Regions from separate parts of the Homo sapiens genome. Here region 1 is linked to region 2. Evidence: fine-mapped expression QTL. A gene starts in region 2. The other region holds a variant in brackets. All regions are shown on one strand. Distances are from middle to middle.

Region 1 (15,247 bases), 130 kb after region 2:
AATTCATGTAAGGAAGCTCTGAAACTAAAGTTCACATCTGGGTAACCTGTACATATAAAATTTGGGAATAATCCATGGTTCTGAATAAAAAGAGTATTTAAGATCAAAATATTCTAAATCAATAGATTTTCTAACAGAGAAATAATAATTTATAATGTACATCTATTTTTAAATAAAGATAGGCAACAATGTAACAGAAGAATAAATACTCCAAAGTGAAATAAAACTAGACTGAGGGAATAAAGTAAAATTTATGATAGTCTCATTAAAGGTTGCTACATGCTTGAAACATAAAAGATACAAGGGATATTTGTTAAAAATGAATATTGTGGTGGCCATTTGCTTGTTTTTGACTGGAGTGTTTTATTTAGGGAAAACTTCTTTCTTTTTCCTTGACAGATATTGACGGCTTAGAGAGCAGTGCCATTGGTGGCCAGCTGATGGCCTCGGCTGCTACAGAGTCTCCTTTCGCCCAGAGCAGGAGAATTGATGACTCCACAGTGGCAGGTAATGACTTGGGTCTTGAGTTTATGAACATCCATACACTGCATGTGTTACCAGCAATTACATTGTTATGTGGTGACTTGAATCAGGATTTTGTCTTGGTTAGAAAAAGTAATTGGGCCGGGCCCGGTGGCTCACGCCTGTAATCCCAGCACTTTGGGAGGCCGAGGCGGGCAGATCACGAGGTCAGGAGATCCAGACCATCCTGGCTAACACGGTGAAACCACGTCTCTACTAAAAATACAAAAAATTAGCCGGGTGTGGTGGTGGGCACCTGTAGTCCCAGCTACTCAGGAGGCTGAGGCAAGAGAATGGCATGAACCCGGGAGGCGGAGCTTTCAGTGAGCCGAGATTGTGCCACTGCACTCCAGCCTGGGTGACAGAACGAGACTCCGTCTCAAAAAAAAAAAAAAAAAGAAAAAGAAAAAGTAATTGATGGAAGTTACTTAGCATCATTCAGCTGATAATGCAACATTTATTATTTATAAGAACAAAGTGAAACATAATCCCATATAATCCATTGTTATATTTCCTGTTGTAGAATTGCATGCAACTGAGTACTGCTCATTTGATAGCAAGAGAATGTGATGTCATTCATTGCCAGGTTGTTTTTGTCTCTAGAAAATGACACACACCCCTCCATGTTCCAGGCGTGGCATTTGCTCGCTATATTCTGGTGGGCTGCTGGAAGAACTTGATCGATACTTTATCAACCCCACTGACTGGTCGAATGGCGGGGAGCTCCAAAGGGCTGGCCTTCATTCTGGGAGCTGAAGGCATCAAAGAGCAGAACCAGAAGGAGCGGGACGCCATCTGCATGAGCCTCGACGGGCTGCGGAAAGCCGCACGGCTGAGCTGCGCTCTAGGTACCAGCGGGAGTAGTGTTCCCTGGCCGTGGTCCTGCAGAACTCACTGGGAATGACCCAGCAGGGTGGGGCAGGGGGACCCTTTAGAAGGGGTTCTGCTAGGTGAATGGTTAGAGGATATACTCAGTCAAGAAGTCATTGTGTGTCTCCTCTGAAGGCGTTGCTGCTAACTGCGCCTCAGCCCTTGCCCAGATGGCAGCTGCCTCCTGTGTCCAAGAAGAAAAAGAAGAGAGGGAGGCCCAAGAACCCAGTGATGCCATCACACAAGGTAACAACTGGAGGGCCAGAACCCACCTGGTGCCTTGGGTGCAGTATGCACACACCTGCACAGGCCTACACACGCCAGCCAACACTCGTGCCTGTTCTGTGTGTGATGCCCGGTATGTATACACCACTGATCACGAGATCCCATTGAGCCACAGGCTTGGGTCTCTTCCATGTAGGTGACCTACAGAAGATCTCTCTGGAGAATGAGAGACATACTGACCCCTGGTGGCAAGGAAAGTGCAGCAGGCCCAGGGGGACCCACCTGGCTGAACTGTTCACACCTGTCATCTAGTCACTGGCTTTGGCACTTCACACAAGTGCACACTTGAAGACCCTTCGGGTTATAGTGGGGAAGGCAGATTGGCCAGTTTTCTAAAGGGGAAATTAAGCAGACGAAGAAAATTCATGAGGGGAGGCTCAGGAAGAAGAGGCTCTTATCAGAGAAAAATCTGAGCTTTGTGAACTCGAGAAATGGCTGATTTTTAACTTGATGAAATCAGTGAGTCGGTGAAGCTGATGATTATCTGGATCTAAGGGAAAAGAATGACCATCCTGGTAGCAACAGAAGATACAAGGCAGGCAGCAAACAAAAGGAAAAATGCCAGCTTGGTCCAAATTGTGTAACTACTATCAGATATGTACAGTAACAAGTCACTGAGTCAGCTGTACATTTTTAGCTGAGAAACACAATTTAGGTCCGTGTTTCTCAGACTTGAATAAAATTTAGAGACCCATTTGAAAACAAAATCGCTCTCACAGATCCCCAGCGTTAACTGAAAAAGGAGTCTCACAATTTTACTTAAGTATTTTACAACCATGAACTACATAAAAATCCTTACATTCACAGTTCTTTAAAAAAAAAACCACAAAACCAAGACCACGATATTCAGATTAAAAACAAATAAAAAATAAGATTAAGGCCGGGCACAGTGGCTTACGCCTGTAATCCCAGTACTTTGAGAGGTCGAGGAAAGCGGATCACTTGAGCCCAGGAGTTCAAGACCAGCCTGGGCAACATAGCAAAACCCTGTCTCTACTAAAAATACAGAAATTAGCCAGGCATGGTGGCATGTGCCTGTAGTCCCAGCTACTCGGGAGGCTGAGGTGGGAGGATCACCTGAGCCTGGGGAGGTTCAGGCTGCAGTGAGCAATAATCATTCCATTGCACTCTAGCCTGGGTGACAGAGTGAGACCCTATCTCAAAAAAATAGATAAAACAGCCAGGCGCAGTGGCTTACACTTGTAATCCCAGCACTTTGGGAGGCTAAGGTGGGCGGATCATTTGAGGTCAGGAGTTTGAGACCAGCCTGGCCAACATGGTGAAAGAAACCCCGTCTCTACTAAAAAATACAAAAATTAGCTGGGCGTGGTGGTGGGTGCCTGTAATCCCAGCTACTTCAGAGGCTGAGGCAGGACAATTGCTTGAACCTGGGAGAGGTTGCAGTGAACCAAGATGAAGCCACTGCACTCCAGCCTGGGTAACAGAGTGAGACACCATCTCAAATAAATAAATAAAATTAGTATCACATTTATGAGACAAATGATGTTTTGCTAAAAATCACTTTGCTCCTTACATTAGGAGATGGTTTGGATTCCTTTGAGGTTGGCTTGCTATATTTCTGGGTTCTGGACCATCACTTAGTTATCCTACCACATGCAATGACTTGAAACCTTTGTTCAAGGAGGACACTGTGGTTTGGCCTTGCCTTAGCATTTTGCATTACTGACATCTGAAGTCACCTTCTGCATTCTTTCTCATTAGTCATCTACAATTTTTTTTTTCTTTTGAGACCGAGTTTCACTCTTGTTGCCCAGGCTGGAGAGCAATGGCACCATCTCGGCTTACTGCAATCTCCGCCTCCCAGGTTCAAGCTATTCTCCTGCCCCAGCCTCCTGAGTAGCTGGGATTACAGGCATGTGCCACCATGCCCGGCTAATTTTGTATTTTCAGTAGAGACAGAGTTTCTCCATGTTGTTCAGGCTGGTCTCGAACTCCCAACCTCTGGTGATCCACCTGCCTTGGCCTCCCAATGTGCTGGGATTACAGATGTGAGCCACCACACCCAGGCTACAATTTTTTAAAGTATTATTTGGAGCTCACAAATACAAACTCAAGGGATGAAATGAAATTGGTCATTTTCAGTGATAGAGCAGTCATTCTGGTGCTCAAAATATACGTAAATAAGTTGTTTTAGAGATGATGATCATAATGAGAGCCTAACATTACAATAATCTCAGAGAAAACTTGCAGAAAGCCAGGAATTCTTCCATTTGACCAATTTTTGGGAAGGGTGAAAGGTCTGGGCCCAGATGGTTTTAGCTGGAATTGGCTCATGAAACCCATCCACACTGCTGTGCCTGACCCAGAGCCCATGAAAGGGCCTGGAAGGAATGGCACCTGCCAGCTCAGGATCCATCCCACTTCTGGAGCTGGAGAGCTGGGGCCACCAGCACGTGGGACCTGCTGGCTGGGTGGTTTGCATGATGGTCCGCAAGGACCTACTGTGGAGGTGCTTGCTGCCACTGAAGTCTGTCCTTTCCCTTTTGCCCTTGCATGACACACATTCTTTCATTTTCATTCTTTCTGTCTCCCTTACTCAACCTGTTATTTTAATAAATGTCTTTCTGGCACAGTGAAACTAAAAGTGGAGCAGAAACTGGAGCAGATTGGGAAGGTGCAGGGGGTGTGGCTGCACACTGCCCACGTCTTGTGCATGGAGGCCATCCTCAGCGTAGGCCTGGAGATGGGAAGCCACAACCCGGACTGCTGGCCACACGTGTTCAGGTGCATGACGGGCTCCCACCCCCAGATGGCACTAACCCTGCCTTGGGAAACCTGGAGTGGGCTGTGGCAGGTGGAGAGGGGTGGCCTTAAGAGCCTGCCAGCATGTAAATCAATTATAACAATTCACAGAGTTTGATTAAACTTCAAATGAGACGTGAAAAGAGAAGAGGGAATAAGGGCCCAACTGAATGTATGTTTTGAAGAACAGGGGACAGAACTGGGTCTGAGGAATTGTGACTTTTCTATTGACATTTTTATGAGAGAAGGAAGGAAGAAAAACCAATTAAATAATTGATTGAGATGACTAAGTGAATACTGTGCAAATCTAAAACTGGTCATGTCTCCTCAATATTACATTGCTATATGTTTATCAATGTCCTCTTTACTTAAAGAAGGATTTCAGATAGCTTATTTGCATACATAAAATACAAGATACCTACTTTTAATTTAGCTAGACTGAAACAAAACAAAACAAAACAAAAAATCGTACACCTCTGCCAAAGACAGGCCAAAAATTTAGCTCTAAGCATTGTAGCATCAAAGTGAAAAGAAACTCCCAGTGAGTTATATAGTGCACAGTGCCTGTAAGATGAAAACCAGCAATAGCTCCAGAGTCCAAGTCCTCTTACAACTAAGACTGAAAGCACGTCTCCCCAAGCATTGCATCAGGACAGACCCAGTACCGTGGAAGGAGCACTGCCCATGGAACAGGGCGGGGGCTGGCCACACTGTTCCTTCTCCTTCTCTGCAGCACATGCCTCACACTCACTCCAAACCCAGGTCTAGGCAGAGCAGGCATGGGGCAAGAGTGGCCAGGGCAATGGCCAATGGCCCAGGGCACCAGCCAGAGCTGGGTTCAGTTTCACGTCTTCAAAGCAAATATAGCCATGAGTGTTTGTTGAGCAAAATGGTTCTATTATGAAGGCTGCTGACCTGCTGCTCTTTATTGCTCTAACAAGAAAAGAAAAGAAAAAAGAAAATAAAAAGGCTCTCCTGGTACACAAGCAGCGGGTAAGGGATTGAAAAATTCCTTGATTCTAGAACATCAGAGTGGATTATCCATGATGCTCTTTACCAGTAAACAGACTTACTCCGAGATGAGGGACCTTGCGAACCATCTTCGTCCCAGGTTCTGTTGGGAACAAACCATTTAGGAGTTGGCAGTTGTAGCACATGTGGTGACCCTTCTCTGTGTCTGCCATAATTCGGTGACTGCCCTCCCACCCGGCCGCCACCCACCCCACCCAGACTTGAGTTATGTGGCGCCGTCGGGACCAGGCAGGACGTGGCTGGGCAGAACCCACTGTGGCTAGTTGGCCTCTCCGTCATAGGTATAGCCATTCTGGGATCCCATCGTAGGGAAACGCTTCCCAACTCCTAATCAGAGCACTATATGGAGGGAAAGAGGGTGCCTGGGGAAAAATGGCTCAAACAGCAGGAGGGCAGATAAGCCAGTAAGCCGGATGAGGCAGGGGGACTGGATGAACTGGGCTTCATTGCCCGTCTTTCTCCCAGCCTGGGGTGGGAGAACCCAAATAATCCTTTACCCATTTCAAGGCTGTCTGGTCCAACTCAAATACTACTAATAATAATGCTGTGTGACATGAGAACACAGGAGGGAAGGACTGACTGTCATCACAGGAAAGAGGAAAGCTGGGGAGCTTGCAGAGCTGGCTGCATTTCCTTTGTCTGGCACTGTGGGGTTTATGGAGCTGCCGGGGTGAGCTGCAGCGCCTAACAGCTGCTTGTCTGTGCTCTTTCTAGGGTGTGTGAATACGTGGGCACCCTGGAGCACAACCACTTCAGCGATGGTGCCTCGCAGCCCCCTCTGACCATCAGCCAGCCCCAGAAGGCCACTGGAAGCGCTGGCCTCCTTGGGGACCCCGAGTGTGAGGGCTCGCCCCCCGAGCACAGCCCGGAGCAGGGGCGCTCCCTGAGCACGGCCCCTGTCGTCCAGCCCCTGTCCATCCAGGACCTCGTCCGGGAAGGCAGCCGGGGTCGGGCCTCCGACTTCCGCGGCGGGAGCCTCATGAGCGGGAGCAGCGCGGCCAAGGTGGTGCTCACCCTCTCCACGCAAGCCGACAGGTGCGCGGCGCCGGCCTCCCACGCCCCGGGAGCCTGCTTACCAGGCGACACCCACATCCATCTGGTTTCAGTCATGCCAGGGACGACCCATTTGTTAGCCAATCACTTAAATCTCTTCCATCTTTTTCAAGCTTAGTTCTCTCTACCATTACATCCATACTTGGAATGAAACGTTTTCTACTAACACTGGAGGGTCTGAGGTAGGCCACCTGGGGTCAAAGCGCTGCGCTTACTCTGGGATCTCAGGCAACCTCACCTCCCTGGGCCCTGCCTGGCTTCTCCATTGGTAAAATAGGGTCATTTTTTAAAAGTAATTCTGTCACCGTGTAGTTGTGAGGGTAAATTAATTAGTAACTTGATGCACCTGGAGCGGAGCTTGGAAAATGGTAAAAATCCTCTATTATGATTATGGCTGTTTTCAAAAATCCCACATGCATGTGTTACTTATTGATGCCCAACAACCATGCGAGGGTGAAGAGGGAAAATCACCAATCGCCTCAACTGTTTGGTGGTACTTCCTGAGGTTGAAAGTGCTTTTGGTCACCAATCACACACAGTTCCACCTCACTTACCTCTTCAGTGTTTGGTCACTGTGTCCCAGACCCCCGGCACGGGCACAGGGAGGACCGTCAGGAAGGGGACAGGAGTGGGAGGAGCACTCCCTGGGCCAGGACTCAGATTGACCTGAGTTCCTGTCCTGACTTTGCACTCCCCAGCTGCCGGGTCATGTCTGTAGACATAGCTGCACTGAGGCTCAATTTCTCCAACTACTAACCCACTACCATAATTGCTTTTTGCTGCTTATCCAAGTTGGCTGTGAAAATGTTTTAGAATCTGGAAAGTAATATACAGGTGTCAGGTGGAATATAATATTCATCACTGTTTTCTTACTAGGAAGGAGGGAGGAGAAATGGTCAATAGGACCCAGAAACCAAATGGTATCAAAATTGGAAGTTACAAAATAGCAAGAAAAATATATTTGTTTCAATAATTTATAAATGTTTAATCCGCTAATTCCCATCTTAAAACTTGCGTGTCTCATTTTCCTCTTTCAAGAAGGACTCATGATTCCATTTCTATTAGAGACCCTCTCCCTGAAGCAGCTCATGGTGCCCCCACAGCACTGTTTGCCCTGCGGTGTCACTAGGCTTGGAGGGCAGATAGCAGGGTGACCCAAGAGCCATGGAAGGCTCACCTGGCACATTGCTCGTTGTGGCCTCATAAAACAGATATTTGATCTTTACCATTCTTCATTCCCGTGACCTTCAAATCCTCCCCTAAATTCTGCTACTGTGCTCCCCGCCTTCCTAAATCCTTCTGCTGGCAAGGTCTGTGCCCAGCTGAGTGGGAAAGAAAAAGAACCTGTAAGACCCATCATATTGGGGAACATTCTTTCTTCCAAATAGATACTTGAGTTCCCATCACATCCAGGCCTTTGGGTGTGTATGAGGCCAGTCCCCGCCCTGGAGGGGGGCTTACAGGATCTACTCTTAGCTGTTTTTGTATCTTTTCCAGCATTATACTCATAAATTATAGACAAACAAAACCTTATTCATTAATTTACTGGGGTTTTTTGACATCATTTATGAAATTGAAGCTAATTCTGAAGATTCCATTCCCAGTTACTCAGTTTCTGGGAACAACGCCTTGCCATCTTTCAGCTTCTTGCCAAGCATTTTATGAGTGCCTACCATAGCGGAGCTAGACCATGAGGGCACAAAGATATTTTTAAATATATTCTTTGTGCCTTTGAATTAAAATCTCACAGTTAGAGCAGACTTGTACACAGTTAGAATAGATAGAATAATACCATACATTTGTCTACAGTGTTTACACAGCATTTCCATTAATCACATCAACAAAATTACCATAATCATTCTGCCATAAAGACCTTGCTGAATTGTTTCCAAAGAACACATCTCTTTCTGTTTGCATCCAGGCTCTTTGAAGATGCTAC[G/A]GATAAGTTGAACCTCATGGCCTTGGGAGGTTTTCTTTACCAGCTGAAGAAAGCATCGCAGTCTCAGCTTTTCCATTCTGTTACAGATACAGTTGATTACTCTCTGGCAATGCCAGGTAATTCTTTCCCTGAATAAACCATATGCCAGGAAGTTAGCAGGAAACAGCCCAGGCCTCTATCACCAGCAGCGTGCCTGAAGATTTGACTCCACATTCCCATTGCTTACACTCACACAAGCTAAGCCCAAGTATAGATTTGTCTCCAGATTTTGAGGCATCCTGTGTGAGGGGTGGTGTAACTCTTTGTGAATGGAAACGTTGCTGCTACCACATCTATAAGAACTCCCACTGGAGCTGGACTAGGTTGTTCTGCTAAGTTTTGTGCTTGTGGTAGAAATTGTGTGGCTCCTTAGGGTGCAGATAGCTTCCTTCACATGAGGGTGGAGCTTTTCTGCGTATCACAAACCACACCACACACCTCTGTCCAGCCAGTGGGACAGAGGTGGTTTGTGATATGCAGAAGCAACCACTAATTCCAAAAGGGGTGGTGAAAGAGGAAACTGCCTACCACTCTTGCAAAACTGATCTCAGAGGCATATCCCATTAATGATGGGTCAGTATCCCTGTTGTCTCCAATGAGGCCAGGTGAAGAAATAAGGCCCTCTTGAAGGCCAGTCTTGTGGAAGACAAAGTAGAGTTGTTCTGAATTGTCCAAGGGTCCCAAAGCATTGGCAGGTTGCTCATAGATGGAATTGTTCATCAAGAGCACAAGTGGTTGTCCTGAAACAGTGAGCACCTTGTCCCAGATGAGTTCAGGCAGAGACCGGGAGCCATGTGCTGGGGATGCACCTTAGTGACATGTTGGACTGCATAACCTCTGAGGTCCCTTCTATCCTTAGGAATCTAAAGTTCTAAGTGTAGTATATTTGATTTTTTCACCCTTGCTGCAGATTTAGATTTGAGAACCACAGTTGTTTCCCCACTAGTTTTTAATAGACTTTAAAACCTGAGCTATATAAAGCCAACCTCCCAGGCCCATAAGACTTTCAGAGAATCTCTGAGCCTGGGGGTAACCTTCAAAGTCTTTCGCATTGGAGAAAACAGTAGACTCTGAGCTTACAAAGAACACAATGAGCAGGGGCCAGGAAGGGTCGGTAAATCTAGAAAGAGGGAGACTTACTTCGGAATCAATCAGGTAGGAATATAAAATGCAGCCTCCAACACTCACCAGCCACAGCATCTGAGGCAAGTCATATCACCTTTCAGACATTCAATTTTCTACTCTGTAAAATAGCAATAATTATATTTTCTTCTTAAAAGAAAATATAGGCCAGGTGTGGCAGCTCATGCCTATAATCCCAGCACTTTAGGAGGCCGAGGCGGGCAGATCACCTGAGGTCAGGAGTTCGAGACAAGCCTGACCAATATGGTGAAACCCTGTCTCTACTAAAAATGCAAAAAAAAAAAAAAATTAGCCGGGTGTCATGGCATGTGCCTGTAGCCCCAGCTACTCGGGAGGCTGAGACAGGAGAATTGCTTGAACCCGGGAGGTGGAGGTTGCAGTGAGCTGAGATTGCACCACTGCACTCCAGCCTGGGCGACAGAGTGAGACTCCCTCAAAAAAAAAAAAAGAAAGAAAGAAAATATAATTGCTTTAAAAATTAAAGTTATTAAAGACTTACAGAACCAACACAGTGTCTGATGCAGGGTAAACATCCATGATTATTACAGGTTGAGTATCCCTAATCCAAAAATCCAAAATCCAAAACTTTTTAAGCACTGGCATGATGCCACAAGTGGAAAGTTCCACACCTGACCTCATGTGATAGGTCACACTGGAAATGCAGGCATGCAACACAGTTTATTGAGGGTCCCCAAGGGGTACAAAAATTGCCTTCAGGCTGTGTGTAAAGGTATATATGAAACAGAAATGAATTTTGTGTTTAGACTTGGGTCACATCCCCAGTAGGAAGCAGAGGAGAGGCAATAGGACATGAGCAGGGAGAGAGCGGGGAAGATGAAGGTTGTCACCTTCTTTGCCAAGAAGGTGGCAAACCCCGCCCCCCATAGTTTCTCACCCTAGTTCAAGATTAGGGCACCAAGAGAGCCCCGCCCTCTTGGCAAAGAAGTAGCCCAAGATCAGGGTAGGCAAGGATGGTACTAAAACAAGACAGAGAAGGCCAGACAGCATGTTACTGAGCAGCAGGGGGACCAGGCCTGCTTGGCAAAGGCTGCAGAGGTTTATTAAGGATTGGCAAAGTAGATGATGACAGTGAAAGGTGACAGTAACAAGAGTAATAATAATAGCTAAAAATGTTGGTCAGTTACTATGTGCTGGGCCCATGCTGAGCACTTTATGCGTATTATCACGTTTAATCTTTAAAGCAATTTTAGGAGTGGGCAGTATTATCCCCAGGTTTACAGATGAGATCATTAAAGAGGAAAATCTTTGGCCCAGTATAACACAACTACTAAATGGTGCCAGGATTCGAATCCAGACGGTCGGACTTCTCGGCCCTCCTACTGAACCGCTACCTCATTCCCTCTTATCATCAAGTTTTGATCATACCTGTCACGTCCCAGGTACCGGGGCTACAGTGGTGAGTGAGAGGACGATGCAGGCCTTGCTAAGTGAACCACCACATCCTTCTTGAATCCAGGGCTCCCTCCTCCCTTGGTTAGCCAATATCGAATTACCCTACTGGTCCTACCTAGATTTTCAACCTCTCTCTTTGCTTGAATAGGTCAGACTATGTCTGAGTTTTGGCTTTCTGGCATTTATGTTCTTGCCTTCCTGTAGGAGAAGTTAAATCCACTCAAGACCGAAAAAGCGCCCTCCACCTGTTCCGCCTGGGGAATGCCATGCTGAGGATTGTGCGGAGCAAAGCACGGCCCCTGCTCCACGTGATGCGCTGCTGGAGCCTTGTGGCCCCACACCTGGTGGAGGTGAGCACTGGGAAGGTGGGAAGAGGCTGGAACTGCTAAGTCAGTGACCAGCAGAGCCAGCATGGGGGCCTGCAGTCATGTATGGGGGCAAAGCACTGTGGCCATTGGGCAGTGGGAACTTGCCTATCACCTGGTCACAAACATCACTGTTTTCTGGTTATACCTCATGGCATCTAAAGAATCACCCCAAAGGGCAGTACTACCCTAGTCTCACTCTGACCCTCTTTCTTTGCAATTGTACAGCTCAGCTAGTTTTCATTTTTATGATCTGGTATCAACCTGAGCCTGGAACAGAAAGACTGTGGATGGTTCCTAATAGCTTTATTTTTATACATAAATATAACAATGTCTTTGGTTCCTACCAGTCCCTGTTTTCTAATAGCTAAATATACTCAGGACAGTGTCCTTTCAGTCAGGGAACCCTATGTCTTGGTTTTCCCAACAAAATTAATACTAAGACCCTTTCACTCTCCAAAGGAAAGCAGTTCGTGTGATCAGTTTTATGGCAGCTCTACATCTAAGCATCTCAATACATGAGGACTGGCCACTTCCAAGTTGACAGGGAAAACTGTTGCCCTGCTTTGCAGTGATAACTATTCTTAATAGCCCTTTTGCTTTTATCTGGTAGAGATAAATCATAAAATATTTCTTGGAACTTAAATTACTAACCTGAGAACATTCTAGTAAGCAAAATGGGTAGAAAATAGCAATGTAGTCATGGGGAAAAAGTCTATCAGTTATCTTTTACTCTACAATAAGGCCTCCCCAACATCTAGTGGCTTAAAACAACAACCATTTATTTAGCTCATGATTCCATGAGTCAGAAATTTGAGGTAGGCTTCTCTGGGTAGTTCTGGTGTTGGCCAGGGGTGGCAGATCTCACTGGCTTTAATTGTGTATCTATGGTCAGCTGGTGCAAAGTCTGGGGCCAGATGGTTCATGATGACCTTAACTGGGAAGGCTAGACAAATAGGTCTCTCTTTTCATGGTCTCTCATGTAGACTAGACTCCAGCAGACCAGCCCCAGCTTGTTCACGTGGCATTCTTAGGGTTCCAAAGAGCAACAACAGGGCAAACCCCAAATCACAAGTACTTTTTAATTCTGTTCTTACATGATGTTTGCTTGTGTTCCACTGGCCAAAGCAACTCACACATCCAAGCCCAGGGCCAGTACAGGAAAGGATTACTCAAGAGCATGGATACCAGGAGGTCTGTAAACCAATTAGAGCTACTGTGGCAATTTGTCCCTCACCTCACTGAGGGACAAATGACTCATCTGATCTTCCTACATGTGGGGCACAGCTCAGATGAAACTGTGAGCCATTCCTAGACTGGGTTCTGGTGTCTTTACAGTGAGCATGTTCTGTACCATTCAAGAAAACTGTCATGTTACAGAAAAAGAAATTACCGGAAACTTTCCTTTTTCTAGAAACATTAACATGAAATTGAGGTTGTACCTGATAAGCTGGTTGAATTGTTAAAAATGCAATTTAGTATGCAGTTTGTTTAGACTTATCCCTTAGAATGTTTTGATTTTAACAGAATTGCTGCTTCCACCTCCTTGTAATGAGGTGGGGTAGGAAAGCCTTCAGAAACCATTCTCACTGTCTGCTGTCCTGATGGTGAGCCACTCTCTCGTGAATTTTGCAGGCTGCTTGCCATAAGGAAAGACATGTGTCTCAGAAGGCTGTTTCCTTCATCCATGACATACTGACAGAAGTCCTCACTGACTGGAATGAGCCACCTCATTTTCACTTCAATGAAGCACTCTTCCGACCTTTCGAGCGCATTATGCAGCTGGAATTGTGTGATGAGGACGTCCAAGACCAGGTCAGTGTGACATGGTCATCAGCGTCATAGCTGGCTCTTACTGAGTGCAGTGGCAGGCACGGTTCTATGAGCTTCGCACACTTACTCTTTCCAATAATCCTATGTGGAATCTGTAACGGAGAAGTTAAGCAGGGCTGGGCGTGGTGGCTCACACCTGTAATCCCAGCACTTTGGGAGGCCAAGGTGGGCGGATCACGAGGTCAGGAGTTCAAGGCCAGCCTGACCAACATGGTGAAACCCCGTCTCTACTAAAAATACAAAAGTTAGCCAGGTGTGGTGTTGCACGCCTGTAACCCCAGCTACTCAGGAGGCTAAGGCAGGAGAATCGCTTGAACCAGGGAGGCAGAGGTTGCAGTGAGCCCAGATCAATCACGCCACTGCACTCCAGCCTGAGTGACAGAGCGAGACTCTGTAAAAAAAAAAAAAAAAAAAAAAAAAACAGAAAAGTTAAGCAATTTGACTAGACACATAATCAGTGATTGGTGGAGCTGGGATTTGAAACTAGGCAATTAAAAAAAAAACAGAAAAGTTTAGCAATTTGACTAAGGATACATAATCAGTGATTGGTGGAGCTGGGCTTTGAACCTAGGCAATCTGCTGGCCTATCTCTTTATACCTGGCCTATATTCCTAACTGCTGCCATACTGTCTACTGAAGGCAAGGTAAAGAAACTAACTGGAGACTTCGTATTTCACACGATGGTGGGCTAGAAATACAGGATCTCTCTCTCTGAAGTCCACCAAAAACGTTGAATAGAGGTTTAAACATTTCTTTTAAATACCTTGACACACTGGCAAGAAAGTAAGGAAGCCCCAAAACTGAGTGCCAATGGGAAGCCAGAGAAGTAAGCGGAGCCCTTAGGCTGGTTTTCCCGCGAGGGAATTTGCTAGCAAGTGGAGCAGAAGTTCTGGTCATCCCAGACGTGAGTGCACAGAAACAGAAAACAAATCTCAACGCAAACTTTACAAAGCTGGTGTTCAATCAGGCCAAGGTTGAATTAAAACAAACTTCCTGAGGATACTATCAGCTTGTTTCTAACATTGGCTCTTAATGGAAAGTTTTTTAAAAAGAGCACTCCAGGATTTATTATTACAACCTAGCCCTTTTATGTGATCTGTATATGAAATTACACCACCTCAGGATCTGAGAAAATACACAGGCACCATACAGAAGCAACAAAACTCCCCCGAGAGAAACTCATGTCAACTCAGGCTACAAAAGAATCCCACAAATAAAGTTTCAAGGTACGTGAGCTCTCAGTATTTTTAAAAAAGTCACAAAACACACAAGAAAACAAGGCAACGGAGAGAACTGATAAAACAACAGATAGTACAACTAGAACTATAAAGAATTGGATTGAAATATTGGTATCTTCCATGCAAAATATTAAATCACAAAGCCTAGTAAGTTTAAGGAAATAAAGGATTGAAATTATAAGTTAACACCTAAAGACTAGATTGTTAACACTTAAGATAAGTTAACACCTAGGTAACACCTATAGTTATCTCCTAGATAGTTAACACCTAGAAGTTAACACCTAAACGTTAGATCATTAACATCTAAGATAAGTTAACCTAGATAGGTTAACACCTAAGACTTTATACCAATAAGAGTGAACTAGGTAATTCAGATCAACTTTCTCACAGGGAACAACTAAAAAAAGTTGGATAAAAAAAATTTTAATCACTCGAAGACACTGACATACTATAGGGCAGTGAAGAACTACAAGGCCAAGATCTGGGAGAAAAAGAATACCCAGAGTAGTCTTCCTGGTATTTGAGGCTGTTTTTCCTAAAAATAGAATCTACTAATTTAAAAAAAGGAAGATATTGGGTTGGTGTAAAAGTAATTGTGATTTTTGCCATCACAGCAAAAACCGCAATTACTTTTGCACCAACATAATAAAAGACGGGGAAGCTCAGCAAAATTGCAGTCTGGGACCTCCCAAGTCTGGTAACTTCCTCGCATCTTGAGTCAGGATCTTGAGGCAAAAGGGACATCTTAGAAA
Region 2 (15,247 bases):
AGAGATTTGAGCTGGAAGTACAGATTTAGCATCATGAACCTAGGTGGTCAAGATCTGAAGCAATGGCAAATTCAGTAGATATTATCAGATATGAAAATTTTGTGGGATTGAGACTGCTTCCCAAGCATTCACAAATGGGGAACTACCTGGGTCCTCCACACTTCATAGAAGCCTTCTACACATCCTTAGTCAGCTCTCTTTCTTATTTTCGAATTTTGGGTCCTCTACCTGTTCATTTCTCCTCTTACATTCAGCATATGTCTTCTTGTTTCATAAGCAAAACAGAAGTCACCAGGTGTAGCTCCCACAAATTCCTGTCTCTACATCAACAACTAAACAATATAAAAAATCAGCTTTCTATCTTCATGCCCCACTCATATCCGTAAATTGGCCTTCATCCCCTAACTGGGCAATGACTCTGTCTATACTCTAGGTACCCTCTTTCCCATCTTCTTAGCATACTTGTTTCCCCCATTAGGCTGGCATCCTCCTGCCTTTTTTCAACCCTGCTTTTATGTCTTTTTTTCTTTCACTGTATAAATATACTCCCCACCACTAGGCTGTTTAATCACAAATTTTCCTCTGGTCTGGTGTTTTCCAAATTTCATGCTTCTCCCCATGAGTGGGTTGTGAAATTAATGAGTCTGTTTCATAAAAATATATTAAGAAATGAATTAGTATGGAACCTACAATATCAGAATGCAACACGTATATTCCTAGCAGGAGGTGTCCACATTGCCACAAATCCTGCAGACAACTGAGTTGAGTGACAGCTGGAGAATGAGAGGTAATGAATATATGCATTGGCTGGGAACTGCCAGCCAGTCACTCTTCTGCTCACTGGTGTCTCAGCTGATTTTTTGGAATTGATCATAATTGTATCAGGAGAGTTCATGTTTTATAGTTTCATTTTATGTCAATGTAATTTATAGCTAATTATAAAGTGAGGTTTAGAAGAACTTTATCTAGTCTTGGCAAAGGCAGGAAGACTTTCCACCAAGGTTTGGCTATGAGTTAGAAGATTTCAGTGTGCTTTTTGAATTAGGCATAACTGTCAGGCATTTTTCAACCTTGTGATAATTGTACATTTTAATCAAAGTTATACCAACTATCCTTAACACAGTTTATTTTATTATTAGAAGAAATAAAAACAGTCGTGTGAAAAACACAGAGGCATGTTCTGGCAGAACTACCAGATTTGGACATGTACATAGTGACAACATTAAGAAAAATGTCTTTTTAAATTAATAAATTCTATTATTTGAACTATAAGCCAAAGAAGTGCAAATCATTTTAATAATGATAAAGTATAGCTTGTCGATTACTCAAAACTCACTGAAAATGTATTATTTGTAATGACATTCTTGTAAATAAAAGCTTAAGATCTTCCAAAAAAATCACTTGAAATATAGCAAGCCAAATTTGTTCATAAGGCCTTCAAATATTTTCAAAGAAAAAAAGATGTAAATTTGTCAACATGATTTCACATTGGTTTTAATGAAAAAGCATTACTATCATAATTAGTCACATGTATGCAGCAAAAGGAAAAAAATTAAACAGCTCCTAAAAAAGTTGTTCTCAGCATACATGGTTATAGTGAATATGATTCTTGATAAATCAGCAGAGAAATTTAAAATTATACTTCTAAGTCATATTATAGTTCTAAAGAATATACAGAATAGAATTTATACTTATTAGGCACATACAGGCAGACACAGGTTGTATAATTCCACTTAATGAGAACACTAATATTTCACATTACTTAGACTTTAGTTTATGCCAAATATGTATGAAAATATGATTTTTATAAAGGATTTATTGTGTTGTTTCCATTTAACCTAACACAAAACTACTTGAGAAACATAAGTTCAACTGGAAAATTGTAACGGAATTGTGAGTGATTCAGAAGTAAATACGACCAGGAGACATGGAAAGATAATTTAAAATATTGTTAGAAGCTACTCTGTACATTATTTAAAATCTGTGTTTTATACATTACAAAGATTTTGCATCCTAACAATTGCACTAAATCTTTTGGACTTGAAAACAAAAGTAACGATAGTTGTTTAATTTTATTAAGGGAACCTTCAATTTTTGATATGTTTTGTTCAGAAATTGGATCTGTGGCTAATGATTCCCCTCCCTATGCCATAGGAAGAGAGCTGTGATTACTCAGGTATATCTCTGCAACTCTGTCTTCACCAATGCAATATATGAGATTTGTGTAACTTCTGCCTCTGAGGCATGGACTCCTCTACTCTCTTTTCCTCTTCCTATGGGCTAGAACACAATGTGCCTGGTACATATCTTTGAGACACACAAATGAGAACAACCCCCTATGGGATGAGGAAACAGTAACATTTAAGGTATATGGTCACTTAATCTCCTGGGACCTGCTGCACCAACCTCAACCACTGACTCAGGGTTTAATTGAAGAGAGAAGTAAGTGTCTATGCTTTGTAAACCACTGTATTGTTGGGTCTTTGTTAAAACAACTTAGCCTTTCCATCAAATAACATGTACATGTTGCATCGTACTGAAGTTATTGATTGTTACGAGGAAAGTACTCATTAAATTATATGAACTCAGGAACAGGATTCATATTTTCCTATTTGAAAAGCAATCTCATTTGGCATTTTGAAGATGATATTTCACCAGAAGAATCTGCATATAGGACTAATTTTTTTGACATTTTAAACTAACTGAATTTGGATCTACAGGGAAAAAGTAACAATATATTTCAAGATGTTTAATATATCCAACACTAACCAATACATTTTAAGTAATCACTGTGGTTACTATGTGTGCACAATTTTGTAACACATAAAGAGAAAATTAATGAAGACATTTTGAATAGAAAAATGATATTAGTTATATTACGTCTCTGTTATAAACTTTAATAATTTCAAAAAGAGAAATTTGAAATATTGAGGAAAAAATTGATAAAAGATCTGTTTTCCAAAATCCTGAATCCATATTAAAGTTGATACTCAAAGAAGAAAGCTAATCTCTAATACTTTAATACATTGAAGAATGATTATAAGTTTATAGCCATTTTAGATTAAGATTAAAGAAGACTTTCCATTGCTAAACAGAGTTCACTGTTGTTATTAATAGCATTCACAGCAACTTATTTGTGTGAGCCAGAATTTTTAAGCAACAAAACTAAAAACATTGGAAAGAAATAGGCATCACAGAGCAAACCACTGTGATTGTCCTCATGCCCGCAACCCAGAATGAATTTAGGAACAGGCAAGTATGCCTGCTGCAGTGAATGAAATCATGCTTAGTAGTAACTATTCTAGTTAACAGTATGTACTGTTTTATACCTAAAACTGTTGTTTCAGTTTTTTAACATATCTATACATGTATGTAAACACTGGATGATAATGTAAAGCATATTTTCTACTGTGAGTTATAGAAAAAAAGTAGAAAGGTGTTTACTTTCCTTCATAGCCATCCACTGGGTTGTTTATCCGTGTGATTTCACCAGCTCTTAATCCACTGCAACCAGGCTGCAGTCATCATTTCTCCCGGGTCTGGCTTCCACGGGATCCTAACTCTCTCACATTCATTACATCATTTTCTGTGTTTATCTTTGTCCTTTCTCTGGATGTTGACCTTGTTGCCTGGATACTACTTTTATTTCATTTTTGTGCCACTTTTTTTTTTAGAATAACACTTCTGATTATAAAAGTAAAAATATTTAATGAAAAATAAACTCACCTATAAGCCCATCAAAGATAATCACTTAATATTTTGTATGTACTTTTGATAGATATGTATGTACATATATGCATGTATTTTTGAACTTATATATACATCTACATCAAATATTTAAATAAAATTGGAATCATGTAGTATACAAAAGTACATAGCATTTTACAATTTGCTTACTTAAGTATATAGTATAAGCCACTTTTCTTTTTTTTTTTCTTTCTCTGTCTTTTTTTTTTTTTTTTTTTTTTTTTTTTTTTTTTTGAGACAGTGTCTTGCTCTGTCGCCCAGGCTGGAGCGCAGTGGCGAGATCTCAGCTCACTGCAACCTCTGCCTCAGGGTTCAAGCACTTCTTGTGCCTCAGCCTCTTGAGTAGCTGGGATTACAGGCATGTGCCACCACACCCGGCTAATTTTTGTATTTTTAGTAGAGGCAGGGGGGTTCTCACCATGTTGGCCAGGCTGGTCTCCAACTCCTGACCTCAGGCGATCCACCTGCCTTGGCATCTCAAAGTGCTGGGATTACAGGTGTGAGCCACTGCCCCCGACACCACTTTTCATATTATTCAATATTTCTCTCCCACATTATTCTTTTTAAATTAAAAACAATTTTTTTTTTTAGTAGAGATGAGGTCTTGCCATGTTGCCCAGGCTGCTCTCAAACTCCTCGGCTGAACCAATCTGCCTGCCTCAGCCTCCGAAAGTGCTGGGATTACAGGCATGAGCCAACATGCCTAGTCCCCCACATTATTCTCAAAGGCTATATAATATGATGCTTTATGAATATATCATGGGTTATCTATCCATATCCTTGTTGCATATTTAGTTTTCTCTTTTTTTAGAATTGAAAGACACACTGAAATGCTTGTAGAAAGATCCTTATCCATTTCCATAATCACTTTCTTAGGATGAATTCCCAGAAGTGGAATTGTTAGGTCAAAGCTATACCTATGCCACATACACATCCAGGCTCCCTCCCTCCAGGAATGTAGTACCAAGTTACACTCTGACCAGCACCCAAGACATGAGAGGACCTTGTTGTTCAGCTCCTTCAATAACATTTAAAAAATCTCTCAGTCAATTTGATTAATAGAAAATAGCATCTTATTTAAAAGTTTGTTCTCTTTATTAGGCACTTGAACATTTTTTATAAGTTTATGGGGTCATATGTATTCTCTCCTCTGTAAACTGACTTTATATATATTGGCTTTTTTAAAAAAGAAGGAGCATTTGTTTTTTAATTCTTTGTTAAAGCTTTTTTTTTTTAACAAAGCTATTCAAACTTTATATGTCTGACATTAATATAAACATTTTCCTAGTTTGCAGCTTAAACGAAATTGTTTTTAATTGTAAAACTAGTAAATACTTTAAAATAGATTCAAAAATATAAATCCACATATAATTAAGATTTAGAGGTATCATCTTTTCTTCCTTCAATCCATCCCTCAGAGTATCATTTGCTTTTTAATTTTGTATGAAACTTTTGGCATAAAGGTCTTAAATATTCAAATAGTCAAATCTATTGACCTTTTTTCCTTCAGTTTCTGCCTTAGTTTGTTAGAAATAATCTTAATGCATTAAGATAAGTATATTCACTTATGCTTTCTTCTAAACTTTTCATCATTTAATTCTTAAATTTAATTTTTAATACATTTGTAATTTATTTTGCTACACGATATAAAGTTGTGATCTATATATTTTTCCAAATAGTTAACAATTTTCTTTAACCCAAGTACATTATCTGCTGCGGCGTTTTTACTTTTTTTTTTTTAAACCTTTCTTTAAATGATGGCTTCACTGGGCGTGAGGGTAGCGGTAGAAGCATCCTTGGGGGCTGGGACTTTGTAGGTTTTGCCTCCTCAGTACCAAGAGCGCCGAAGGAGTAGTCTGACATCCCCATGTGTTGGACACCCTCCAATGGCAGTCCCTCCCCTGGCTGACCCCCTACACCTCGGATTTCGGACTGCTCCTCTCAGCCTCCTCCCTGGGCCCTTGCTCCTGTACCCATGATTTGAGAATTAGGGGGGCCGTCACTCCCTCTCTTGTGCAACCTTTGTCAAACTCGAGGCATCAACAACTCCTATATTTACCACCCTTCAAATACTGGCATCCCTCCCAGAGCTCTATCCTGAGTTCCTGTCCATAAAAAAAATCTACAAGTATCTCATTATCATTTCAATCTGAACATGTTCAAAACTGAACTCATATATCCCCCCTAATCCAAACCCTTTTTATCTTCTCTTCTTTAAAGAATGGGGCCACCATCCTCCCAATTTCCTAAACAAGTAACCTGGAAGCCATCCCATATACACCGTCTCTCCCCTATTGTGTCATTAAATCCTATTGTTTCTACCCTTCAATATCTCTTGACATACTTTCCTTTATTCCCCTTCTACCCACCCTTGGCCTAATTGGTTTCTAGATTCCTGCAGAACCTTTGTTCTCCCAGCTGCCAGTCTGCCCCTCTGCAGTCCATCATCCTCACTTCCACCACAGGAACATTTTCAAAGAAAAAGGAAACACGGGGTGCCCTGTCACACTGCCTTCCCCACCGCCCGCGTGAGTCTCCTGGGGCTCCCCCTTTTCACCCCAATGAGAAGCCCTCTGCTGCGGCGGCCCTTGTGCACCACATTTTTCACAGGGCAGCAATTCAGCGCAAGAGAGGATGGGAAGGGGAGGAGATAGGGGTTTTTAGAAGGGGCTTTGGATTCAGGACGTGTTTGGAGTCTAACTCTTGTTGGTCTGGGAAGTAACCCAGCCTCTCTGGGCCTGGTTTCCTTGGGCATATCAAGCTCTACCCCAGCCCCACCGCAGCCCACCGCCCGCCGCGTGTTGAAAGCTTGACTGGAGTTTCCCTGCAGGCAGGGGCACAGTGTGTGCAACGCTGCATCGCCCGAGCCTGGCACAGGGAGTGGCCCAAAAAAGCTGTTAGTGACTGAACGCAAGAATTTTCCGGTTAGCAGACGACGGGATGCAGCGGGCGCGGCGCCTGCACCACGCTGGGGGTCCCGGTGTCCGGGCTGGGCCGCTCCGACTCCGCCCGCGGCCACCGTCGGCTCAGGGGGTGCGAAGACCGCGGCGAGGCCCCTCCCCGCCTGCCTCCCGCCGCCCGCCGCGGACCAGGCGCTCCCTCCCGGCGGCTGGCGAGCCAGCTCCGGACATCCGTCCCCACCTTTCCGCTAAGCGCGGCGCCCGCGGGGCCTGCCTCGGCGGTCAGGTCAGCGGCCTCCAGCCTCACTCTCCGGCCCCAGCCCGCAGCCGCCGCCGAGCGGAGCGCACCTGACCCAGGCGGGCGGGGCGGGGCGGCGGGCGGGGCGCGGGGCTGACGTGGCCCGCGGCATGGAGCGGGCGTGATTCATCAGCATCCGCGCCGGGGCGGCATGGGGGCGCGCGCGGCGGCCGCCTAGGCGCCCAGGGCCAGGCAGCGGCGGCTTCCCCGGCCCGGCTCGCCCGCGCTTCTCTCCCTGTGGGCGGCGGCCCGGCGCCTGGAAGGTCAAGATGGAAGAAATCCTGAGGAAGCTGCAGAAGGAGGCGTCCGGGAGCAAGTACAAAGCCATCAAGGAGAGCTGCACCTGGGCCCTGGGTAAGCGTCCGGCACCTGCTCGCCGCGGCGGGAGGGCCGCGCGGCCGGGGCTGAACCCGCGCCTCCGCGCGTGGGGCTTTCGCGGAGCGTCGGTCATGGGTGCCGTTCTGGCGATTGCGAGAGTCGCCTCGGGAAATTGATGTGGGATTTGAGAGTCTTGGCTCGGGCGTGGACATCAGCCGCCTCCCCTCCGGTCTCTTTCACTCTCCGAAACCTTCCTCGGGAACCGCTGTCCTCCCTGCCTGGCGGCCCCCTTCTCCTGGTCCCGGCGCTGGGGACGATGCTTCCCCATCGCCGAGTTAGGCAGGACCCGGAGCCGGTGCGAATCCTGGGGCCTGACAGCGAAGCGCCTCTGGGGAAAAGGGAAGTTAAACCAACAACCCCGATGTCGAATCCTTGGCGAGTGGAACCAGGAAGGAAAGGCTTGTTTAATTTGATTTTCCTGATAGAGGTCAGCTTGCTTAGTGTTAGCTTTCCTGGTTATTGCACATGAAAAATAACATACGGGCGGGGATCATGTTACCTCTGCAATTCTGTTGTGGTCTGCCCTTCAGACAGGTGGGATTTTAGGGCTGTGAGCTGTGCTAGCGTTGAAGTAAGTTCCAGGGAGCAAATTTGTGTTTCTCATCAGACTCAGGTTGCAGAACTCAGCAGCGGAAAAAAACGGAAAGACATTTCAGTTAGGCGGGGTTTGGGCAATCAAAATGGTCAGGATGGTAATGCAAATAGATCAGAAGCATACTTTGGGTGATGGTGATGCTTTTTAGAAAGGAAAGGCCAAGAAGAAGCCAGCGCAGCTAGCTCTATGGGCTCCTCTCTCTGCCTTGCTGGAGCCTGATGTGATGCCTCAGTTGCCACTCAATTGAAAAATGAAATTGACTCCCTTTCCCTTGCAACCAAGAACCATCACTGTCTGTCATGACACTGTGTGTGCTTTGATGCAGCCTGAGATAGAGAAGAGCCTTTAGCAGGTTTTCCACTAAATGTAAAATTTTGAGAGTGGTTTAGGTGACTCTTAATATGTAGATGGTCTTAATTCACATATGTTTGGGTGTGTGTACAGGTAATTATAGCAGCATCTTTTTTTAAACCTGTGCCTATCATCACAAAATTGTCTAGAATATTGTCTAGGAAGTTTGTCTTGTAGGTAGAACCAGCACTTGACCATTCTAGCTTACTGTTAAAGAAAAATGGACCAGAAATCTGAGAGAACAGCAAGGCTCTTAAAGCCACAGTACTATTTTTGCCGTTGCCATTGTCATTCAGCAGCGTGATTCGAAGCTAGATTCCAAAATGCCTCTAATGAAGGGTCACAGATGGCTGGGTAACATGATAAAGCAGGGCCCAATTGTGCTTTAAACATGCCATTCCTAGTATTCGTTATTATTTTGCTGCAAATTAAGCAGATTTAGATAAACAGGGAGGAGGAGATTAATCTAGTATTTTAATAAGTTTAAATACTGACATCAACATCTTATTAAGTGAAACCACAACGTTGCTGAGTTTAGGTCCTTTAAAGCCACTGGGGAGGCTGAGCATTGAGGCAGGTAAATTTTTCGAGTCAAATCTGAAAGAAACCAGCCTGAGTGGATGTACTTCCTTTCCCAGTGATTGTTCTGTCATTAGCAAGACAAGACAGAAGTGCATGAAATAGTTAAATAATAGTGCAGGGCATTCATTGTGCAGTTGGATTGGGCAAACCAGGAAAACAAGTCAAAGAAGGGAGGATAAATGTGTTGTCCATGGATTGGGGGAGAATTGGTGTGAGCTGGTGGGGCTTTTGAAGTAGATTTCACTTGAAGAATGGGGAAGCTATGGGTTCCTTCTTTCCGTCGCTTCTTTATTTAGGAAACATTTATTAAGACCTCCCTGGTAATGAGCAATGGGATATATGGATGAATAAAATGTTCCCTGTAAGGAATTTGTTAGAAGGGCATGCTGGAGACATGAACAAAGGCCTATAGGGATAGGTTTTCCTGTTGCCTTTCCCACTCCAGTCCATTTCCACTGCCCGTCACTGTTTAGATTACAAAACACCTGTCACTCTTCAACCCCCCAATTTATTTCTAGATTAATGTGTAAATTCCTCAGAATGCTCTTCAGAATCTAGCCCCAGCCTCTGTTCTTGTCACTCCCCAACCAAGATTCAACAATCTAGTGGCAGTCAGCTGCAGCACTTTGTTGAACATGCTGTGTGGCACACTTCTCTCTTTGCCTTTGCTCTTGCTAGTCCTTCTGTAGGGAATTCCCTTTTCAGACTTGGCAAGGTCCATCTTGTTTAGGAAACATTCCCTGAGCTCCTCAATAGGATAAGTTGTTTGTCTGGGTTCAGATCCTTGCCTTGATGACTCTCTTAGAGTACCTACTATTTTGGATAATAGTTGATTGTGTGCACAGGTAGGCTCTTACGGGCAGTGTAATTGACAAATATGTTGGGTGCAAGAGACAAAAAAGCTAGTTTAAGCTGAGCTATACAAAACGGGATTTATTTACTCCTTTAACTAAAATACCCCTTACAAGAATAGCTGTGATTTAGGAATTAGACACTGTTTCAGGGATCTTGTCCTGCTCTTTGTGGGTTGACTGACATGCTCTGCGTGGGTCTCCACAGTTTTGGGCTCATGAATCAACACATTTAGACCATCTCATGAAAAGAGGCAACAATAAACTTAGACCATCTCAGGAAAACACGTCTCATCCCCCACTTAGACCATCATGTGATGGGGAGGTCAACCGCTACTTAGGTCATCATGGGAAAGGGGGGTTACCTCTCACGTAGACCCTCATGAGAGAGGGGTCATCCCCCACTTAGACCCTCATAGGAGCAAGGGGCCATCCCCTACTTAGACCATCATGGGAGAGAGGGGTCATCCTCACTTAGACCCTCATGGGAGAGAGGAAGCATCCCCCACTGAGACCCTCCTAGGAGAGAGAGGTCATCCCCCTCTGAGACCCTCATGAGAGAGAGGGGGCATCCCCGTCTGAGACCCTCATGAGAGAGAGAGGGCATCCCCCTCTGAGACCATTGTGCGAGACAGGGGTCATCCCCCACTTAGACCCTCATGGGAGAGAGGGGATATCCCCCTCTGAGACCCTCATGGGAGAGAGATCATCCTTGATTTAGACCCTCATAAGAGAGAGGGGCATCCGACACTGAGACCCTTGTGAGAGACAGGGATCATCCCCCTCTGAGACCCTCATAGGAGCAAGGGGTCATCCCCTACTTAGACCATCATGGGAGAGAGGGGTCATCCTCACTTAGACGCTCATGGGAGAGAGGGTCATTCCCCACTGAGACCCTCATGGGAGAGAGGGGGTCATCCCCCTCTGAGACCCACATGGGGGAGAGGGGCATCTCCCTCTGAGACCCTCATGAGAGAGAGGGGTCATCCCTCACTGAGACTGAGACCCTTATGGGAGGGAGGAGTCATTCCCCACTGAGACCCTCATGGGAGAGAGGGGTCATTTTCCTCTGAGACCCTCATGGGAGAGGGGTCATCCCTTACTTAGACCCTCAGGAGAGAGAGGGTCACTCCCCACTGAGACACTCATGAGAGACTGAGACTGAGACCCCCATAGGAGAGAGGGTCATCCGACTCTGAGACCCTCAAAGGAGAGAGGCATCATTCCTCACTCAGATCATTTTGAGATAGGTGATCATCACCATATTTAGACCATATCAAGAAAGCTGGACTTCTCCAGTCACTCCTGCCTGATCCTTGGTTTCCCTTGTTCTCTTTGTCCTGATGGTTCATGAGTGTATCCTTGAACCAGTCCTCTAGTCAAAGAATGAAGTAGAATAACTGGTTTAGGCCTAGGCTACAAGTTCCACTGAAATCCAGAGCTGGGGAAAAATGGCTTCCTGGAAGTAAAATTAAGATGCTTCTTCAAAAGCCAGGGGAATGGATACTCGTCAATCAAAACAATACATGTCAGCAGAGTAGTGAGCTCTTTAGCACAGGGACTGCCGTTTATGCTTCTTTGGTTGCTTCTGCACCTATAGTGGAAGGCAGATGTTCAATAAGTAAATCAATACTTTAACTACTTGTTTGAGTTTTAAATAATATTCATCTTTTTCTATTTATAAGAGTTATATATGTTCACTTTAGAATGTTGCAAATAATGGAACAACATAAAGAAAAAATTAAAATAATCTTCAGTCTCCCTATCCGGAGATAACACTGTTGACATTTTGGAGTCTTTCCCTTTGCAAAAGGTCATACCGCATATGGCATATTGTCATGTGTTTTTTAACTTTAGCATCTTCTTCTACTCTGTCTACTTTGTCATGACACTTCTCTGAAAATCAGTGTTAATGGCTGCAGAATAACTAATAAGGCATATGTATGTATCTTCTCTTTATTTAGTGTTATCTGGTTGGTTGTTTTTGTTAGTGAGGAATGGCGTGGCCAGGGAGTAGAAAGGAATGAATTGGATGAAGGGTTGGCTTGGGGAAAGGCAGAAAGAACTTCAGAAACTGGCAGTCCTGGGGGCTTGCAAGCTAGGCTGTGGTGGGATGAAATAGAATTGCAGAACAGGAGAGCTGGAAGCAACCAAGCCCTACTTTTAGTATTTTATATCTATCAGGGGCCTTATACAGAATGAATGTGGAAAATGGAGGAGCGGGGAAAGAAACTAGAGGTACGAAGGCCAAGTAGGGGAAGAGGGAACATCTATCCAACCAGCACCCTTCTCTCTATCTACCCATCTGCTTTTTCTTCCAGCCACAGGTGATTACTTCACAGCCAAACTTCTTAAAAAGTGTAGAAATTGTATCTGTGTTCTCACCTTCTACTCTGTCTTCATCTTTTTGTCATCTGCCTTTCACCTCCATCATCCCACCAACTCACAGTTACTGAAGAACAGTAACATACAGCCATTCGGCTGGCAGACCATTCTCATTCCCATCTCAGAGGTCCTCCTGGTGACACTGGACACAACTGGGCACCTGCTTTACCTTGACTTCTATGATCACACCCTACCAGCTCCATCTTGGTTCTTGAGCCATTCTGTCTCCTTTGCTAGTGCCAGATTCTGTCCCCAGCTGTAAATATTTGAGTTTCTCAAGGGTTAGCTTTGAGCCCTCATCTCTTACTCCCAGCTCTTCTGGAGTTGAACACACACATACCCACAGCTTCAGCTCCATTTCTGAGAATGTGATGCCCGTGTTTATATCACTAGTCGACACCAGTGCTCTGAAACGCACACCCCGCAACTTAGCTACCTGCTGAACATCTCCACCTGAATGGCTTGCAGGCACTCAGCTCAACAAGGCTCAAAGTGACTGTGTGTTCTTCCCCACCTCTACCTCACTGCCCAACCTCACTCACCTCTGGTGTTTCTAAATGATCAGTTGATGTCATCACCTGTCCAGTTGCATTGACCTGAAATCTAGAGTCATCCTTGATACATTTCTGTAATTTGCCATCTTACCTAGTCCGTCACCCAAGCTCTGCTCATTTTTACCTCCTAAATATATGTCAAGCCTGTTCACTTCTTTCTACCTCTGTTGCCAGCTCTCCAGAATAAGCTGCCTTCTCTTTTTATCTGAACTTCTGCAACACCCTCTTAACTGCTCCTTCCTTGTCTGCTCTAGTTCTTTTTCCCAAGTAGTGTCACCTTGGAAACCCCAATCTTTTCATGACATGCCATGTTAAAACACTGAATAGCATCCCATTAGGATAAAAACAAAAGTCCTTGGTGTGTTCTGTCCAGCCGTACATGGCCTGGCTCCTACCTGCCCCACAGCCTTGTGCTATGCCACCCTCATGAGACAGAGGGTCATCCCCCTCTGAGACCCTCATGAGAGAGAGGGGTCCTTGCTCTCTGAATTTCAGCCACACTGATCTTCTTTCAGTTACTCAGCTACACTGTGCTCCCTCTTACTTCATTAATTCAGCAAATATTTAGTGAGTACCTACTATGTGCCAGGTACTGTTCCAAGTGTTAGGGATAACATGGTGAGCAAAACATGCAAAAAGATCCAAGAGTTTACAGATTCTTGGAGAGATGACAGCCAGTAATCAAGATAAATAAATAAAATACACATGACAGCAAAGAGAGTGATAAGAGCTAAGAAAGGGAAAACATAAAATAGTGAAGAAGATAGGAGGTACTTGGAATAAAGAGGGAGTTGCCATTTAAATAGGGTATTCACGGAAAACCTTACTAAAAGGGAGGCTCCTAGTTGGGAAAACATCTGATGGCTTTGGGAAAGAGCAAGGAGCCAGGGGGCTGGAGCGACGGGAGAGAAGTAGGAAGTGAGGACCAGATCATGAAAGTCCTTGTTGGGCTCTCTAAGGATGAGATGGGGAGTCATTTGGGGTGGAGGAAATGCTCTCATCTGGGTCTTGACAGGGTCTCTCAGGATACTGTGTTAAGCAGAGACTGCAGCTTCAGGGGCAAGCCCAAAAGCTAAAAGCCTAGAACAGAGGCTGGTACAGTCATCCAAGTGAGAGAAGGTGACAGCTTGGACCAAAGTGGCAGGACAGAGTCAGGGAAGATGTTGAGATTCTCCAAGCATTTCAAACTTATTATTCCCTCCACTCGGAGTGACCTCTCCTTATCTACTTTAAATAAATCATTTGTGGTCTCATTACCCCCAGCAGGAAGCCCTGACCTCACAGTCCACAGTAGGACCTCCTGTTCCACTTTTGCCTAATTCCCTGTATTTTCCTTCCTGGCGTTTATCATGCTTTGAAATGAGAATGTGCACTCCATGAATTCATGGATCGTGTCTGTTCTCACCACTGGGTCCCTAGCCCAGGACCTGGTTCAGTGTTTAGTGAGAGATCAAAGAAGGGAGACAGGAATTGGCACTGGCGTCTAAGGACTGTGTCAGGCCCTTTATGATCATGATCCTATCAGCTCCTCACAAGCATCCCGGGAGGAAGGTGTCATTGTCTTCTTTCTAAAGATGAGGGAACTGAAACTTACAGAGGATAAGTGACCTGCCCCCATCCCACAGTGTCACAAGCTGGAGTGGAGCTGGGAGTGGAACCTGGTTCTCTTTGCTTTCCTTCTTGATGCTTCCATGGTGCCCTCTCCCCAGCTACCATTCTGTCCTGGGTGCTTACAGCAAAGCTGCAGGCCATTTTCTCCTTGACCTTTGGATGCTCTTCGCCTTGGGTTCCACACTGATCCCATGTGCCTGGGAGTCTCACTGCACTTAGAGCTGTAGTTTCATGGTGGCTGCTGTGTGACAGCCTTTTCTCTTTTCCTTTTCTTCTAGCTTGCTCTTAGCCTTATAGAGCTGGGCACTGTTACCCAGCCTTGGTTGACTATATATCCCTCTGTCCTGCGGGAAAACCATGCTGATCTGGTTGTTCACTGTCACTGCCTTTCCTTGGGGAGCAGCATCGGCTCATCCTGGGTGCCAGTCCCTGCTGTGCTAACTGGTGGGCTGCACTGGCCTGTGTGGCCTTTGAGCTGCTTCCTGTACCTGCATCTCAGGGCTTCCCTTTCTTGTCATCCTGTCTCATCTTAAGCATTGACTTCAGTCCTTCATCTTCCTCCATTGGCCTTGTCTTCACAGAACCAAGAACCCTGCTGAACTCATCTTTCTGTTTTGCTGATTAATTGTCTTTCTGAAATCCACTCTTTTGCCCCACTGGCCATATCAAGCCCAGATCCTATCAGGCCTGTTCTTAGCCTTGAGTCTCTGATATATGTATATATTTCACATTTGTTATTCTCTCTGATCTCTGAGCAAGGTGGGAAGAGACATTTCTCCTTCCCCAATGAAAATAGTTCAGATAGACAGGGCTTGTTGACTCCAAGGAGTGAAGAAAGGGGTCAACACAATTTCAGCTGCAAGACTGGAGACAAGTTGGAAGGATTGAAGTAGTACAGTTTTTTGGGGAAGAGACTGGTGAGCTTTTCATTATCTCTAAAATTGGAGGCAGCAATAGTGTGAAAAATCCACAAACAATGGCAAAGTATTGAACAT

What was found. PIP is the estimated chance that this variant, and not a neighbour inherited with it, causes the effect.
Region 1: its variant is fine-mapped to the expression of ARFGEF3 in nasal epithelium (TOPMed, PIP above 0.99).

What each region holds. Positions count from the first base shown.
Region 1 is chr6:138,285,547-138,300,793 of GRCh38, forward strand. It overlaps ARFGEF3 (ARFGEF family member 3), which reads left to right. Exons shown (of 34, transcript NM_020340.5): 15 at 400-507; 16 at 1,155-1,370; 17 at 1,528-1,638; 18 at 4,272-4,422; 19 at 6,187-6,507; 20 at 8,447-8,580; 21 at 11,264-11,409; 22 at 13,060-13,239. Among named protein-coding and RNA genes, the nearest start is that of PBOV1, 75 kb to the left of the region's middle. RefSeq lists an enhancer at 1,402-1,901. The variant G/A (reference allele first, on the strand shown) is at 8,465.
Region 2 is chr6:138,154,873-138,170,119 of GRCh38, forward strand. ARFGEF3 (ARFGEF family member 3) reads left to right here and starts at 7,067. Exons shown (of 34, transcript NM_020340.5): 1 at 7,067-7,299. The coding sequence starts at 7,215. RefSeq lists an enhancer at 6,876-7,846 and a silencer at 6,940-7,169.